Linked DNA regions of Homo sapiens: regions 2, 3 and 4 are each linked to region 1. Evidence: fine-mapped expression QTL. A gene starts in region 1. Each other region holds a variant in brackets. All regions are shown on one strand. Distances are from middle to middle. Region 1 holds the start of TPST2 (tyrosylprotein sulfotransferase 2). Region 2 overlaps TPST2 (tyrosylprotein sulfotransferase 2). Region 3 overlaps TPST2 (tyrosylprotein sulfotransferase 2). Region 4 overlaps TPST2 (tyrosylprotein sulfotransferase 2).

The links. PIP is the estimated chance that this variant, and not a neighbour inherited with it, causes the effect. A credible set is the group of variants that fine-mapping cannot tell apart.
Region 2: its variant is the best candidate, but not a certain one, in a credible set for the expression of TPST2 in monocytes after LPS (Fairfax 2014, PIP 0.80).
Region 3: its variant is the best candidate, but not a certain one, in a credible set for the expression of TPST2 in whole blood (INTERVAL, PIP 0.56).
Region 4: its variant is the best candidate, but not a certain one, in a credible set for the expression of TPST2 in monocytes after interferon gamma (Fairfax 2014, PIP 0.72).

The regions. Positions count from the first base shown.
Region 1 is chr22:26,588,729-26,591,410 of GRCh38, reverse strand. It overlaps TPST2 (tyrosylprotein sulfotransferase 2), which reads left to right and starts at 1,279. Exons shown (of 7, transcript NM_003595.5): 1 at 1,279-1,358. It also overlaps a transcript of CRYBA4 not described here. RefSeq lists enhancers at 925-1,064, 1,581-2,081 and silencers at 1,175-1,544, 1,555-1,734.
Region 2 is chr22:26,568,599-26,571,280 of GRCh38, reverse strand. The region is part of intron 1 of TPST2 (tyrosylprotein sulfotransferase 2); the gene reads left to right. Among named protein-coding and RNA genes, the nearest start is that of MIR548J, 15 kb to the right of the region's middle. RefSeq lists enhancers at 1,948-2,471, 2,472-2,682. The variant T/G (reference allele first, on the strand shown) is at 1,240.
Region 3 is chr22:26,556,641-26,559,322 of GRCh38, reverse strand. All of the region lies in intron 1 of TPST2 (tyrosylprotein sulfotransferase 2), which reads left to right. Among named protein-coding and RNA genes, the nearest start is that of MIR548J, 2.7 kb to the right of the region's middle. RefSeq lists an enhancer at 2,567-2,682. The variant C/T (reference allele first, on the strand shown) is at 1,235.
Region 4 is chr22:26,522,021-26,524,702 of GRCh38, reverse strand. It overlaps TPST2 (tyrosylprotein sulfotransferase 2), which reads left to right. Exons shown (of 7, transcript NM_003595.5): 7 at 1-2,682. Among named protein-coding and RNA genes, the nearest start is that of TFIP11-DT, 11 kb to the right of the region's middle. The variant T/GTTTT (reference allele first, on the strand shown) is at 1,513.

The DNA.
Region 1 (2,682 bases):
CAACCCTTGCCTCCCAGGTTCAAGCGATTCTCCTGTCTCAGCCTCCTGAGTAGCTGGGACTACAGGCATGTACCACCACACCCGGCTAATTTTTGTATTTTTAGTAGAGACAGGGTTTCGCCATGTTGGCCTGGCTGGTCTCGAACTCCTGACCTCATGTGATCCACCCACCTTGGCCTCCCAAAGTCATTTTCGTATTTTTATTAGAAACGAGGTTTCACCATTTTGGCCAGGCTGGTCTTGAACTCCTAGCCTCAAGTGATCCGCCCGCCTCGCCTCCCAAAGTGCTAGAATCACAGGTGTGAGCCATGCACCTGACCCAGAAATTTATTTTAAACAGATAATATATACATATGGCAAATAGAAAGTTAAAAGAGAACAAAGAACCAAAGTTCACAATGAAAAGTAAGCCTGCATGCCTACCCTACCTTTTCTTCAGGTATTCAATGCACAAGCATACGATGCATAGATAGCTCTATTATTTTTCCAATTTTACACATGAAGAAGCAGAAGCACTGAAAGGTTATAGAACTTAGACTGTGCTAAGATTTATCAGTCAGGAGTTTTGTTTCATTTGTGTATATCAGGGCTTCACAACCTTTACGCTATTCGGCATTTTTTGCAGGGTTTTTTTTGGGGGGGTAGTGGCAGGGCTGGGGGTGGAAAGGGTGTCCTATGCACCGCAGAATGTTTAGCAGCATTCCAGGCCTCTACTCACTAGATGCCAGTATCGCCTCTCCACTTCCCCAGTTATGACAACCAAAAATGTCTTCAGAGATTGCCAAATGTCGTGGTGGTGGAGGGATGTCAGGGCAAAATCCCTGATAAATGGAGAGAATGTGGTATATCCACAAAAACTCCCTCCAAAACCACTGGTGTGTATGACTATACATCAGACCACCCCTTTCTTTTTTCTGTGTTTTACACAAACAGTAGCACGAATACACCCCGCTGCGGGTCTACTTTTCTTTTCTTACACCACTTTTTGGTGATCATTCCACTTCATTGCTTACAGGCAGAAAGGAACTTCTCTTAAACAGAACTGACCGGGAGAAGTGGTGAGCTGCCCGTCCTAGGGGTAAGCCAGCGAGCAGACAGGGGCTTCCAGGGCGGCGGGGCGGGGTTCCCGGGGCGAGCCTCCGGGAAACTTCCCGACCAGCCTCTGCTCACCTCGCGGTCCCGAGGCGCAGTGGAGGGGATGGGGCGGGGCGGGGCGGGGCCGCGTATCGGGCCCGCCCCCGTACGTCACGTCGCCGCGGCCCCGCCCCCGCGCGGGCACCTCCCCCTTCCCCGGCTGGGGCGGCTGGAGAGCCGGGAGTCGCTGGGTGCGTGGGGCTGCCTCGCCGCGTCTCGCCACGGTAGGTGGCCCTGGGGCGGCAGGGGGTGGCCTCGGGTTGCAACCGGGGGCGCGGGCTGGGGGCCGTGCGGGTCGGCCTCGGGCGCCTGGCAGCCCTCCGTCCTGGCGGCTGCCTCCGGGCCCGGCGCGACTGCTCGGGCTCCGGGGCTGGGAGCTGGGATCTGGGAGGCAGGCAGGCGGCGCGGGCGCGCGGTTCTGGGATCCGCACCCGCTCGGCGTCCCGAGCGCTTTCCGCGGGGTGCGGCATCCACCGGGCCCCCGTTACCACGCTTCCCGCTTCGGACCCAGCGCCTGGGAGACGCTCAGCGTCTGTTGGCGGGGGGACTGGGGGGGAGGGCGGCGCGTCCCCGCCTCCGGAGTCCCCAACCTCGCCCAGGCGCGCGGGGACCCCCAGGCGGGCGCCAGGGCGCGTGGAAGTTAACTTGCAGCAGCCGTGGAGTTGCGAGGAGCGTCAGAAGTGGAGGCGTTGGGGGCGGAAATCGTCGGCTGGGGAGGTGGGCGCTGGGAGCACTGGGTTGGGGAGCCCTAGTGAACTTGGAGGTCACTGGTGAGGAGTGGAGAGGAATTTGACCCGAGGATCCCACCCCAACCCCCAACCTCCCTCCGTAAACTCCGCTTCTCGGTGTGAGCTGGATGGGAGGTGCCCGGAAAGCCGGGACTGGGACTGGTAGCAGGGGACTGGGAGCATGGGCTCAGAGGCTGAGCACGCCTGACCTGGCAGAGTCGTTGTTAGATGGGACAGAGGTCGAGGTCTGGCATTCCCACTCAAAGGCCCGTTCCCTAGGGAAGGAACCATCCACCTCAGCAGAGTCATTAGAAAGAACCGTGCCTAACCTCTTGCCCCCTTCCCCTTTTACAGATGGGGAGACTGAGGCTTGGAGAGGTCACCTGCCCGTGACCCTAGGATTCACAGCTAGGATGTGGCAGAGCTGAAACTCACTCACAGGCCTCCTGACTTAATGTCCTTGGGGATGTTGAGGAGGCGGGCTGTTGAACTCCTACTTATCCTACAGAAGCCCCCTCAAGCAGCACCTCCTCCGGGAAGCCTTCCCTGGCATTCTCCTGGTATTGTTGGGTGCTTCCTGTTTTGAACCCCACAGAGTTAGCCAGCCCTTTTTCTCACTTCCCAACAGACATTCCCTTGCATGTCTGTCTGCCAGACTGGGCTGTGGGTGGACACCTCTCCCTAGCCTCCATGTGATAACCCTTTCATCTCAGCAGGGTGGTCTGCTGGCGAGGGTAGGCTTCTGGATTTGAACAGATCTGTGACACACCGGATTTAGTAGTGATGTGGCCCGGGCGACGCATTTTCCTTCCGATCTAGT
Region 2 (2,682 bases), 20 kb after region 1:
ATCCGGGCAGCGGGCACAGCCAGGGCACTGGCCCAGAGGAGGGAGGGTGCTTGTGTGTTTGAGTGACAGCAAGGGGGCCAGCGTGGCTGGAGAAGAGGCAAGGGCCAGTGGGGTTGGGGGCAGAAAGGTAAGGGGTGGGGTCAAACCTGTAAGGCAAATGAGGACTGGTTTTTCCTGAGTAAAGTGGGAGCCATGGGAGGATGCGGAGCAGAGGAGGGCCATAGCCTGACTTCCGTTTTCCTAAGGTCACTGTGGCTGCTTGCTGAAAATCAACTGATGAGACAAGGGCAGAATCAGGGAAGCTAGTGATGAGGTGGCTTGGACCAGAGTGGTAAGAAGTGAACGCCTGAAACAAACGTCTGGCAGTGCGGGTGGTGAGAAATGGCGGATTCTGGCTCTGTTTTAAAGGTGAAGTTAACAGGAGTTGCTGCTGGATTGGATTAGGGTGAGAAAGAAGAATCAAAGCTGCCTTCAAGGTTTTTGGCACCAGCATGAAAGGATGGAGCTGCTACCAGCTGCAGGTGGGGTATGCTGCTGCTACCAGCTGCAGGTGGGGTATGCTGGGGAAAGGACCAGGCTCAACACCCAGGTGCAGGGAGGAAGAGAGTGGGCAACTGTGTCCAAGTGAGGAGAGAGATTTGGGTTCAAGATGACAATTCAGGAGATGTCAGCCTGTGGGGAGCATCCAGGGGCGCTAGTATCTCCTGAACTGGAGGGAGGAGAGAGGGCCACAGTAGCCAAGTGTGACCTCCTGATACCTGTGCCAGAATGGCTGGGTTTGGCCCCGCATAAGGAAAAACCCTGTAAACGTTTTCATGGGGCTGTAGAGAAAGAGGAAGACAAGCAGACATAACCTCCTTGGCATCTGATCAAAAGCCACCGTGGCCTGGCTGCTCATTTATTGAGTGTGGGTCTGGGAGGTGTCCATGCCAGGAGCCGGGGTGTGGGTGGCATGATCAGAGGCTGAAGCTCAATTGTCCTTGAAGTTCCTGGCGCCCAGGACCGACTAGCCCTGGGAGAGCGCCGTCCTGCAAGTGTTGATTGAATGAATGCAAAGAGTCTTGTGTGTTCCTCTGCAGCAGCCGGGAAAAAAAAGTGTGTGGGGTGGAGTGGGGCGGGTAGCATACCCCAGCCAGCAACACCATTCCTCAGCATTTGACAAAGTGTGATTAATTAATTTTTTTCTCTCTTTCTTTTCTTTCTTTCTTTCTTTCCTTCTTTCTTTCTTTCTTTCTGTCT[T/G]TCTTTCTTTCTTTCTTTCTTTCTTTCTTTCTTTCTTTCTTTCTTTCTTTTTCTTTCTTTTCTTTCTTTCTTCCTTTTTTTTTTTTTTTTTTGACAGAGTCTTGCTCTGACACCCAGGCTGGAGTGCAGTGGCATGATCTCGGCCCACTGCAACCTCCACCTCCCAGGTTCAAGCAGTTCTCCCTGCTTCAGTCTCCCGAGTAGCTGGGATTACAGGTGCCTGCGACCACGCCCGGCTAATTTTTGTATTTTTTAGTAGAAACAGGGTTTTACCATGTTGGCCAGGCTGGTCTTGAACTCCTGACCTCAGGTGATCCTCCTGCCTCAGCCTCCCAAAGTGCTGGGATTACAGGCATGAGCCACCGTGCCAGGCCATTAATTTTCTTTTTTTTTAGGAGACAAAGTCTCTCTGTTGCCCAGGCTGGAGTGCAGTGGTGTAACCATGGCTCATTGCAGCCTCCAGCTCTTGGCCTTGAAGTGATCCTCTTGCCTCAGCCTCCCAAAGTGTTGGTGTGAGCCACCAAGCTTGCTGAAAGTGTGATTCGTTAAGACTATTTTTATTCAAGTCTAACGTGTATACAGAAAAATGCATATTTCATACGCATACAGCTCAATGAATTTTCAAAAGACGAATGTGTCTGTGTGACCAGCACCTGGATCAATAGCTGAACGTACATAGCACCCCTCCCTGCCCCAGGACACCTTGCTCCCCCTGCAGTTACCCCTTGCCCCACCGGGGTAACCACCATCCTGACATCTCCCCCTAGAATTTCACCTGTTTTTGTACTTTGTATCCATGGAACTGTTACTGGAACGGGGTCCCGATCCAGACCCCAAGAGAGGGTTCTTAGACGTTGTGCAAGAAAGAATTCAGGGTGAGGCTGGGCGCGGTGGCTCACACCTGTAATCCCAGCGCTTTGGGAGGCTGAGGCGGGCGGATCACGAAGTCAGGAGATCGAGACCATCCTGGCTAACACAGTGAAAGCCCGTCTCTACTGAAAATACGAAAAATTAGCTGAGCGTGGTGGTGGGCGCCTGTAGTCCCAGCTACTCGGGAGGCTGAGGCAGGAGAATGGCGTGAACCCAGGAGGCGGAGCTTGCAGTGAGCCGAGATCGGGCCACTGCACTCCAGCCTGGGAGACAGAGCGAGATCCGTCTCAAAAAAAAAAAAAAAAAAGAATTCAGGGTGAGTTCATAAAGTGAAAGCAAGTTTACTAAGGAAGTAAACAAACAATAGAATGGCTACTGCATAGACAGAGCCTCCCAGAGGACTGCTGGTTGGCTATATTTATGGTTATTTCTTGATCATATGCTAAATAAGGGGAAAGGTGTGGGCAGTTCCCAGAACTGAGGGTTCCTCACCTTTTTAGACCATATAGGGTAACTTCTGGCATTGCTATGGCATTTGTAAACGTCATGGCGCTGGTGGTGGGAGTGTCTTTT
Region 3 (2,682 bases), 32 kb after region 1:
GCAATTTTGGCTCACTGCAGCCTCTGCCTCCCAAGTTCAAGCGATTCTCCTGCCTCAGCCTCTTGAGCAGCTGGGATTACAGGCATCTGCCACTGCACCCTGCTAATTTGTGTATTTTTAGTAGAGACAGGGTTTCACCATGTTGGCCAGGCTGGTCACGAACTCCTGACCTCAGGTGATCGCCTGCCTCGGCCTCCCGTAGTGTTGGGATTACAGGCGTGGGCCACCGCGCCGGGCCCATGAACTGTACACTTTAAATAGGTGAGTTATATGATATGTGCATTGTCCCTCAGTAAAGCTGTTATGAAACAATCTAAATGCAAAAATATCCATGAAAAACAACATATAAAAATTGTAAATAATGTCAGGATCAGTATTACTGATTTTTTTCTTTCTGCCTTGGCTCCAGTGTGGCTTAGCACAGCGCAACATCACTTGTCCTATTTAAACACTTTATATTTTTTGTTTGTCATGGATTTTTTTCCACTGATCTAAAAAAGATTGCATTGAAACATTATTGATCTTGGTTACTGAGTTTTTTGGCACCCCCTTGAGTTTTTGTGCTCAAGGACAATGCCCTGCTTGCCTCACCCTGTTCCTGCCCTGCCAGGCAAGCCTTTTGCTCTCCCTAGGGTGGCCAGGGTCTCCCCCACCACTCTGTCCCTTCCTTCTCTCTGTCTCCCCATCTGACGGCTGAGACCAGCAAGCCCACCCCAAGAGAAGCTATGATTTGTCTGTCCAGCCAGTGAGTCATGTGTGAGGACCACAGTAGGGGGCTCTCTCCACATCACATCCTCCTCCTGCCCACAGTGTCTCCTTTGCTGCTTTCTCCCTTCTCTCCCATCTCCCTCCTTTTTAATTTTTTTGTTTTGTTTTGTTTAAGGCCAAGCACAGTGGCTCATGCCTGTAGTCGCAGCACTTTGGGAGGCCGAGGCAGGCAGATCACTTAAGGTCAGGAGTTGGAGACCAGCCTGGTCAGCATGATGAAACCCTGTCTTTACTAAAAATACAAAAAAATTAGCCAGTGTTGTGGCCCAGTGCCTGTAATCCCAGCTACTCAGGAGGCTGAGGCAGGAGAATCACTTGAACCTGGGAGATGGTGGTTGCAGTGAGCTGTGATTGCTCCATTGCACTCCAGCCTGGGCGACATATATATGTGTGTGTGTGTGTGTGTGTGTGTGTGTGTGTGTGTGTGTGTGTGTATTATATATATTTTTATATAATAATTTTTATA[C/T]AATATATATATATAAATTTTATATAAAATATATATTTTTTTGAGACGGAGTCTCCCTCTGTCAACCAGGCCAGAGTACAGTGGTGTGATCACAGCTCACTGCAGTCTTGACCTCCTGGGCTCAAGTGATCCTCTGGCCTCAGCCTCCCAAGTAGTTGGGACTACAGGAGCATGCCACCACACCCGGCTAATTTTTAATTTTTTTGTAGAGATGGAGCTTTACTACATTGCCCAGGCTGGTCTTGAACTCCAGAGCTCAAGCAATCCTCCCTCCTCGGCCTCCTGAAGTGCTGAGATTACAGACATGGGCCACCACGTCTGACCCCATCTCTCTTCTTTGAGATGGCTCCCTGGGTCCCCCAGCAGCTATCACTTGGCCTCCAGCCCTTGTCTTTTCAGGCATCCTACACCAGAGAGAGCCTGTGTCCCCTCCCAGGTCACAACCAGACCAATGCTCACAATTTCCCACCGTCCCCAGGATAACTCCAAGCTCCTTACCTGGCATTCAAAGCCTGGCACAGTCTAGAGCTTGCCAATCTCCTTTCCCCACTTTTCCTGCTCACCACTGCTGATTTCTCATCGGTAGATTCAGATGGGACTCACAGTTATTGAAGAGCTGCAAGGCATTAGCCACACCCCTCTGGTCTTTCCCTTATTAAGCCCCTATCTCACTTAATCCTCACAGCAGCATCGCTAGTAAGAATTATTGGGCCCATTTTACAGATGAGGAAACTCAGGCCCAGAGAGTGGAGGTGATGCTGCCAAGGGTCTGGGGTAGATGCAGGTGCACGCCCAGTCTGGCTGGCAGCATGGGACTCTGACCACCTGCCTGTGCCTCCCCTCATCCACTGCGGATGTTTGCTTTCCCTCAGGGCCATGTGTACAGTGCCTCTGCCAGGGTCACCCCCACTTTGGTCCCTGTTGGCCTTCACACTGCTAACTTAGTAGCCAAGGTCACATGCCAGTGTGTGATGCCAGCGTGGAGAGGAGCCATGGTTCTTTTATAACAGTTGCCATCTCCTACCTACTTATATTTGGGGCTTGCTATGTTGATAGCCGCAGGCTGGGTCTCAAATTCCTGGGCTCAAGCTGTCTTCCTGCCTCAGCTTTGTGAGCAGCTGGGATCACAGGCATGAGCCGCTGCTCCTGGCCACTTTTACTTCTTAAAATAAAATCAGAACATGCAAACCATGCTCCACAATATGCCATCAAGTGTTTCTGGTGCAAATCCCTACTGCTCTTGTGTTTGATGGTGGGGCGAGGAAACGGGCAGGAATGGGAAGGAAGGTGAATCTAGACTCCTGAGGCAGGACCATGGCTCCCTGGCCCTAACAGCCATAGATTTTGTGTCCATAACGGAGCCAGATGCTGGCAGCGATTCTTAATTGGGGTTCCAGGCTGCATTCGGGGGCCTAGGAATTTGGATGAGGGGAAAATTACATCTTTAT
Region 4 (2,682 bases), 67 kb after region 1:
GTGTTTTACCCATACCTCCTTGCCTTATATCTCATGATAATATGAGGCTTTTGGAAGGCAGTGACTTATTGTGGCTTGGGGCATGGGTTTTTGGAGTCAGGCTGACCTACTGGCTGTATGGCTTGAGACTTTGTCTCTTCATCTGTAAAATGGGGAAGTTAAAACTTCATGGTGTGTATGTGTGTATGTGTGTGTTTAGACAGAATCTCGCTCTGTCACTCAGGCTAGAGTACAGTGGCGTGATCATAGCTCACTGCAGCCTCGGTCTCCTAGGGTCAGGTGATCCTCCCATCTTAGCCTCCTGAGTAGCTGGGCATGTGCCACCACACCTGGCTACTTTTTAAATTTTTTTTTTTCTGTAGAGACGAGGTCTTTCTATGCTGTTCAGGCTGAACTTCATGGGTTTATTGGGGATGGCTAATGGATGACATTGGCGGTGGTCCTTGATACCAGATAAGCCCTCAGTGTGAAGCAGCTCTTATTTTTCCTTGTCTTGAGATTGCTCTGGAATGGAAATTAGGCTTTTTTGAAGGTGTGACCCTTTTTGTTCATTTCTTCAGCAGTTACTTTTTATTTTTTAAATGTTTGACACACAGTCTCTGATAAATGATCATTCACCAATCACCGATTACTCTCCTTGCTCTGTTAAGTGTGACACTGTCCCTTTGAGAATCTGGCGACAGCTATGTATCCCATCACCACACACCCCAAAAAAAAAATTTATGTCTGGTTCCAGGAGTTACCTTTTATGAGAAGTCCATCTGTGAAGACCCTGGATGTTCAGAGAACTTCCTGGGAAAACACTGAAAGAAAATAAAGAGGCCGGGCCCGGTGGCTCATGCTTGTAATCCCAGCACTTTGGGAGGCTGAGGTGGGCAGATAAGCTGAGGTCAGGAGTTCCAGACCAGCCTGGCCAACGTGGCGAAACCCCATCTACTAAAAATACAAAAATTAGCTGGGCGTCGTGGCGCATGCCTGTAGTTGCAGCTACTTGGGAGGCTGAGGCAGGAGAATTGCTTGAACCCAGGAGGCAGAGGTTGCAGTGAACCAAGATCATGCTAGTACACTCCAGCCTGGGCAACAGAGTGAGACTCCATCTCAAAAATAAAATAAATAAAACAAAATAAAATAAATACAATTTCTGTTTCTAGCCCCTAAGTGGTAGCACTGGGTCTTGTTCCCTGAAAAAAACTAGGCTCAGAATCCACTCTCATTTCATCTCCCCTGATTTGATCTGAAAAGATTTTGTTTAGAGTACTACATGAATATATTATAAAACATGGGACAATCAGAATTGATAGTAAGAAGGCAAGTGGCTCTATTTGTACTTCCTCTCAATAGCTCCTAAAGGTAATGCTACCATTTTCTGTTTGTACATAGTCTTCCAGACTTTAAATTTTTGAACATATAAATATTATCATCTTAAAGACGTATGGAAAAAACCATTTTGAATAGGTTATTCCAAAATGTAATTTAACAGATTGCTCTGGAGGATTGTTTGTTTGTTTGTTT[T/GTTTT]GGAGACAGAGTCCCGCTTGGTTGCTCAGGCTGCAGTGCAGTGGCACAAACACAGCTCACTGCAACCTCTAACTCCTGCAAACACAGCTCACTGCAACCTCTAACTCCTGCAAACACAGCTCACTGCAACCTCTAACTCCTGCAAACACAGCTCACTGCAACCTCTAACTCCTGCAAACACAGCTCACTGCAACCTCTAACTCCTGGGCTCAAGCAGTCCTTTCACCTCAGCCTCCTGAGTAGCTGGACCATGACACCTACCTAACTTTTTATTTTTTGTAAAGAGGGGAATCACTATGTTGCCCAGGCTGGTCTCAAACTCCTGGGCTCAAGCAATCCTTCCTCAGCCTCTCAAAGAGTTGGGTTTACAGGCGTGAGCCACCGCACCTGGCTCCTGGAGCATTTCTGATGTGAACATGTGCTGATCTAACACCACTCCTTTTACCAGCTGCCTGTTCTAGAGCAAACCATCTTTTTTGAGCATTCCACTTTGGCTAGGCCCTTAGGCTGTTAGCAGTTTTCATCGCTACTGGCAAAGCTGCAGTGGACGTTCTCCTGCACATATAACCTCTTGATGCCACTGTATGAGTGAGTCTCTGCAAAATGAGAAGTAGAATTGCTGGGGTGAAAGGCATACATACTAACTTTTTTGATTAATTCCACCCATGTACCCTGATTTGGGCAGAATTTTAATCTCACTGTGAAATCAGAGCTTTGTTCTAGAGCCTTTCTTGGGGGTTCCATGGATCAGTGGGTCAGCCGTCACTTGTGCCCTGGCCCATCCTCTGTCCAGCTTGGGCAGCATGCATCATTCATTCTGATTCCTTAATTTGCCATATGTGAAAACATGGTAATCTATACATTACTTGGGTGCTATTATTATATATAACTAGCTTTGGAGTCAGAATTAGCGTCTCATCCTGGCTCTACCACTTTCCAACTGTGCGACTGTGGCCAAGTGACTCCCCTTCTCTGAGCCTCAGTTTTCCTCTTCTGTAAAATGGGGGTAAAGGGATAAGAACTATAGGGGGATCTCAGGGGATGGTTAAGAGAAATCCATGAGATAAGCAAACACATTATCTAGTTTAGTAAAGCTAAGCAATGAAGACTTAACAGCCCCATGGTGAAGGCTTAATACATGGTAGCTATAATGATTACTATTAATATTGT